Regions from separate parts of the Homo sapiens genome. Here region 1 is linked to region 2. The links come from fine-mapping of genetic effects on gene expression. A gene starts in region 2. The other region holds a variant in brackets. All regions are shown on one strand. Distances are from middle to middle. Region 1 overlaps LTA4H (leukotriene A4 hydrolase). Region 2 holds the start of LTA4H (leukotriene A4 hydrolase).

What was found. PIP is the estimated chance that this variant, and not a neighbour inherited with it, causes the effect.
Region 1: its variant is the best candidate, but not a certain one, in a credible set for the expression of LTA4H in subcutaneous fat (GTEx, PIP 0.57).

The regions. Positions count from the first base shown.
Region 1 is chr12:96,013,699-96,016,609 of GRCh38, forward strand. It overlaps LTA4H (leukotriene A4 hydrolase), which reads right to left. Exons shown (of 19, transcript NM_000895.3): 11 at 1,885-1,996; 12 at 1,157-1,301; 13 at 52-155. Among named protein-coding and RNA genes, the nearest start is that of HAL, 19 kb to the left of the region's middle. The variant A/G (reference allele first, on the strand shown) is at 1,725.
Region 2 is chr12:96,034,310-96,037,220 of GRCh38, forward strand. LTA4H (leukotriene A4 hydrolase) reads right to left here and starts at 1,278. Exons shown (of 19, transcript NM_000895.3): 1 at 1,052-1,278. The coding sequence starts at 1,210. TRD-GTC2-8 (tRNA-Asp (anticodon GTC) 2-8) reads left to right here and starts at 1,712; the gene lies at 1,712-1,783. RefSeq lists enhancers at 377-466, 1,057-1,476, 1,917-1,966, 1,987-2,036 and a silencer at 907-1,006.

The DNA of each region.
Region 1 (2,911 bases), 21 kb before region 2:
TAAATAGAGATATATCGAGCATGAAAAATAGAAAAGGTTTTTAAATCCAACCTTATCTTTAAAATAGGAATACAGGAAATCCTTCCAGTCATCAGTAGTTATGCTCTTATAGGAAAACTTCTCAACATAAGCTTTTAAGAATCCTAGGAAAATCTCTAAGAGTAAAAAAGAAAAGAAATCAATTCATAGAAAGGTAATTATTTGACATTTTGTGTGCGTGTTTGGCATTGTACTATTAACCACAGAGAACAGAGAACATTCAGAGAATAGGGAAATCTACGAGGACTTTCAGAGTGAAAGAATGTTCAAAAAAGGAGGTGGGACTTAAGTTGGGCCTTGAAGAATATATGTAATTCAGTGGAAGGGAGAAGAGAAATTCTAATTATAGGTAAGGGGATAACACATGAAGACACAGAAAAGGAATGCATAACCCAAGTTCTAAAAGCAATAACCTTCACATGACTAGAAAGGAGAAAAATAAGACTGGACAGGCAGAATGGATCCAGGTGACAGACAGCCTTCCAAGTCAATCAACCAAGGAGAACACCTCAATGTCCATCAGTGGGGGATGGGTACATAACTCAGCATAGCTTTATCATGAACTAGTATGATGGCATTAAAAAGTATGAAACAGATTTATATGTACTGACACAGAAGGGTGTATGTGAAATATCGAGCAAAACAAAACACAAATGCAGAGCCAATATATAGCATGACCCATTTTTTGTAATTAAAATAATTACATGTATTTATTTGTCTGCTTGTTAATTTACACCTAGAAAATGATCTGGAGCCATTTACACCAAACTGCTAACAGTGGTTACCCCTGGGGAGTGGAAAGGGGTTGATGGACTCTCACTTGTTACTCTTATAAACTTCTGTACCATAGAAATGTTTTCAGGGAATACACACTATTATCCTAATTTCAAAAACTGATGAGATTTTTTAAAAAATGAAGCAGCATAATTTAAACCTTAGGGGTTATTAATGGTTTTAAGTTGAGAGGTAACTCAGAAAACAATACAGATTTCTTCAGCAGCTACATCCAGAATGAATTGGAAGTATTAAATGGAACAAAACAATAGTTTACAATTCTTCCTAATTCTCACATTACCCTCAAAAAGAAAAAAAAAATCATAAAATACCAACTACTTACCTGGTCCTCCAAGCAGTTGTTCAAGGTAAAAAAGTAAAGCAAAGCCCTTCTCATAGGGAACTGAAGAATAAGCTACATCAGGGTCTATATCTGTCAGATCAACCACAAGTTTGGTGAAAGGATGTGTCTCCCCAAATGTCTTTACCTGCAAGACATGAAATAACATGGAGAAACATATAGAAAGACTGCTATCACCACGCAAATAAGCTAATAAGGAGGTATTACTTCACTCAGTGGTGTAACTTTAGGGGAATCTAAAACTTGGAGACTGGAACACTAGGATATGTTGGCATAAACTTCTGGAAGTCTATTAATAGAATGCTTACTTAAGTAATATTCTCTGTTGTTTCTTGCTCAATAATACAGGCTTTATTCTTATAAAAAGACTAGAAAAATGATTTAATGCCTGGTCAGCAAATTTGGCTTTCAGGAGACAACACTTAAAAATGACATACCAAATAAGATGCAAACATAGTAAACAGCTATATTAATAGCAAAGACCCAGTGAGGTCCCACAGCTCCCTATTTAGACCAGGTCATCAAAACTACCTTACATAGAACAGTGAAC[A/G]GTGTGGATCAACACAGTGTTATACCAGCATTGACTTCACTTTCCACACTTGTAAAAATGACTTTTTGGTTGCTACACAGTAAAGACGCTTTTATAAAAACTCAGTTTTTAACACCTATACAACTTTGGATGAAGGTTTTTAAAACTTTGACTCCTTTACCGAATTCTGTAGTTCTCCCCATCCTCCCAGAGCATTAAAATGTCTGAACTTTTCACCAAACAATCGTCCGCAAATGTGGCGTTCCAAGTACACAGTATGTCCCTCATTTAACCTGAAAAAAAAATATTTTAATAAAAACACGGACACAGCTGAGAAGAAAAGACATTTCAATCAAGATATTTTCTTTTTGGCTTTTCTACAGAGGAAAGCAGTTGTAAGGCATGACCACTACAGTCTAAGCCGACTCTGGCTCCCAGGCAGTCAATCCAGAGCAATGGGAAGCCCAGCCCAGCAGATGGCAGCAGGGAAAGTTAAGCCCTGCTTCTGCTCTTGCATGTCCCTATGTTAAAAGTGGGAGTATATCAGGAATTAAACTTAACACCTAGACTGAACCTAACACTCCTAACGCTGTAATAAGTGTTACAGAATTTTTAAGAACTATCCTTGTTGGCCGGGCATGGTGGCCCACGCCTGTAATCCTAGCACTTTGGGAGGCCGAGGCGGGAGAATTATCTGAGGTCAGGAGTTCAAGACCAGCCTGGCCAACATGGTGAAACCCCGTCTCTACTAAAAATACAAAAATGAGCTGAGCATGGTGGCGTGCACCTGTAGTCCCAGATACTCGGGAGGCTAAGGCACAAGAATTGCTTGAACTGAGAGGCAGAGAGATCACACTACTGCACACCAGCCTGGGCGACAGAGTGAGACTCCATCTCAAAAAAAAAAAAAAAAAAAAAATCCTTGTTGGCTGGGCGTGGCGGCTTATGCCTATAATCTCAGCACTTTGGGAGGCCGAGGTGGGCGGATCACTTGAGCTCAGGAGTTTGAGACCAGTCTGGGCGACATGGTGAAATCCCATCTCTATAAAAAATACAAAAATTAGCCAGGCATAGTGGCATGCGCCTTTAGTCTCAGCCACTTTGGAGGCTGAGGAGGGAGGATTGCAACCCTGGAGTTGCAGTTAGCAGAGATTGCACCACTGCACTACAGCCTGGGCCACAGAGTGAGACCTTGTCTCCAATTAAAA
Region 2 (2,911 bases):
CTTCAGGTGAAAGGTACCTTCAGATGAAAGGTATAAACCAAATACTATTGGGCAATTTGAGCAAGAACATTAAATATAGGTTATGATACAGATAAAATCATTGAATAATATTCCATGAATCTACAACCTTTCTTCATTCCAATGGTTATAGAGTTTGTAGAAGTATGTGTTTTCTAAGTGAAATAACTACTTGGCTCCTTGGAACCAACTATTAAAAAAGCGTATTGAATCATCCTTAGAAAATTTGAACGTCCCATCCGTTCTTAAATTATTAGAAGAAAGTTGATAAGATTAAAAAGTAGAAAGGACCCTGAAGAGAGAGAGCTGCGCCTAGAGTTAGCAAGCAGGGACTGTTAGTTTCAAAGTAGGGCGGAAAGAAGAGGCCTGCCCGGCCGGGGCTGGAAATCCTAAGAGGCTTGAGAACGACTAGCAGGGAGATCCAGGGAACTAGGAGGGAGACGGATGGGTGGTGCCCTGCAGACCTGTGGATTGAAATAAGTGTTCCCGGGAGGCAACCGTGGGATCAGGGATCGACAGGACATGGGATCTGAGACTTGGGTGAGATTGTTGACTGAGGAAGGTGCCCAGGGGGCTGGGAAAAGTCTGGGGCCTGAAGAAGGGGGTTCTGGGCCGCAGGCCGAAGCAATGGGGAGGCCATGGAGTAATTAGAGCCAGGAACTAAAATTATGGGGGCTACTGCAAAGATGACACCTAAGGGCTGGGTGAGTTGAGAGGAGTGGACGAGGCGCTGGATGTGCCCAGGGACCTCGGAGAGAGGATCCAGGCGAGGGGCGGAGGAGACATACGTATAAGTGGGGGCTGAGGGAAGGGATGCAGAGGCGTAAGCGGGGTTGAGAAGGGGTGCTGTGAGAGATCTGGGGGCTGAAGTGCACAACATGAGTTGGATGGAGGCTACAGAAGAGCAGACGGGGACGTGGGGCTAGGCAGGGGCCGCGGCGGGGTGAGCCGGAGATCCGGGAGCCCGCAAGGACTAGGGTCGAGGGGCAGGGAGCCCGGGAGAGGCGGGCACTGGGCAGGCGCCCCACTGTACCAGGCTGCGCAGATTGTCCTCCTGAGACTGGACCGTGAGAGCAGCAGTCCCGGTCAGCGTCCGGCGAGTAAAGTCGACGCTGCAGCGCAGGTGCAGGTGCTTGGTCCGGCAGACGGAAGCCGGAGAGGCCAACGAACAGGTATCCACTATCTCGGGCATGGCTCTGGGGGATCACACAGCACAGCGACCTACAGCCCAACGCTCAGCTACCAGACTCGTCGATAGAGAACCTGAGGAGGAGGGAGAGAGGTAAAGAAGAGGAGGAGGGATTCGCGGTGCACGCCGGGAAAGGAAGTTTCTTAAAGTCAGACGAGCGTTGGGGGATGGGTGAAGGAACTACAAGTTCCATGGTGCCGCGCGGCAAGCGGGCGCTTGGCTACCTGGGAGCGTGTGTGTTAGGGATGTTGAGGGGGACCAAGCGTGCTCCTGGAGCTGAAGAAGAGGAGGGGAGTAGGGGCAGTTAGAAGGGTGGCCGAAGGGAAATGATGAGAATGGAGGGGGAGATAAAACTGAACACTACCATTTTGGCTCTGTTCAACTTTCGTGGAAGCTGTGGTGGCAAACGTAAGAAAATCAGGTTCATTGGTGTTTGCATATAGCGAGGGCGGGGCGGAGCAAAAACGTAGAAAAGGCCTATCAGAAGGCTTTCTTTCGTGCGGTTCCTCGTTAGTATAGTGGTGAGTATCCCCGCCTGTCACGCGGGAGACCGGGGTTCGATTCCCCGACGGGGAGGCACAGTAATTGTTTTTTGTTTTTAGCTGTAAGTAATTCAAGGTTTAAACAGTTGTTTTGTCAGTTTCAGTGTTTATTATGTATATCCCCAGAACCTGCATCTCTCAAACGGAGAAAGCCAACATTCCCATCTTAGAAACTAATGAATTTCTATAAAAGTTATGCACTGGTCGCAATGGGAGTACAGAGCTGGGACATCTAGCTCAGCTCTGGGGCCTTTGTGGCAGGTGAAGGAGGATTGAAGGATGCCTTGCCTTTAGGGTGGGGCCTCAAAATTAAAACTGGAAAAATTGGAAGAGGCTAGGTTTCGAAGGACCTTAAATAGGTGGCCTTTTAATCCTGGGTGCATTAATGGGGGACCCACTGAAGAGTTTTCAGCAGGCGACTGATAAAGCATGGTCAGACTCATGTTATAAAATGCGGTATCAAAACCATTAGCAGGAGATTTAGGAAACTATTAAAATGGCTCAATCAGAAGATGCTGGGGGCCTGACATAGGTAAGTAGTAAGTTAGGATAGAGAGGAAGGAATGAATAGAAGGAATACTTATATAAGTGGATTCACAGATTGAGAGGAGACGAAGGTGGCCCAGGCTTTCGGCTTCAGTGGCTGGCTAGTCATTAACCAGAGGTAGTAGTCTATATGAAGAGGACAGTATGTTAGGCTGTACTTGCATTGCTATAAATACCTGAGACTGGGAAGAAAAGGGGTTTAATTGGTTTACAGTTACGCAGGCTGTACAGGAAGCATAGCTCCAGTATGCTTCCAGGTAGGCCTCAGGAAGCTTACAATCATGGCAGAAGGTGAAGAAGGGGCAGGCCTCTACATGGCCCGAGCAAGAGCAAGAGATTGCGGGGCCGGTGCCACACACTTAAACAATCAGATCCCACAAGACACTGTGGCGAGGACAGCACCAGGCCATGAGGGCTCTGCCCCCGTGACCCAAACACCTCCCACCAGGCCCTACCTCCAACACTGGAGATTATAATTCAACATGAGATTTGGTAGGGACATATATTCAAACTAAATCAGACAGATTTAAGGGGAAGATGCTAAATTCAATTTTGGACATATGAAATTTGAGAACCTATGGGAGTGGAAGTGGAGATGTCCATGAGTCACTTGGAT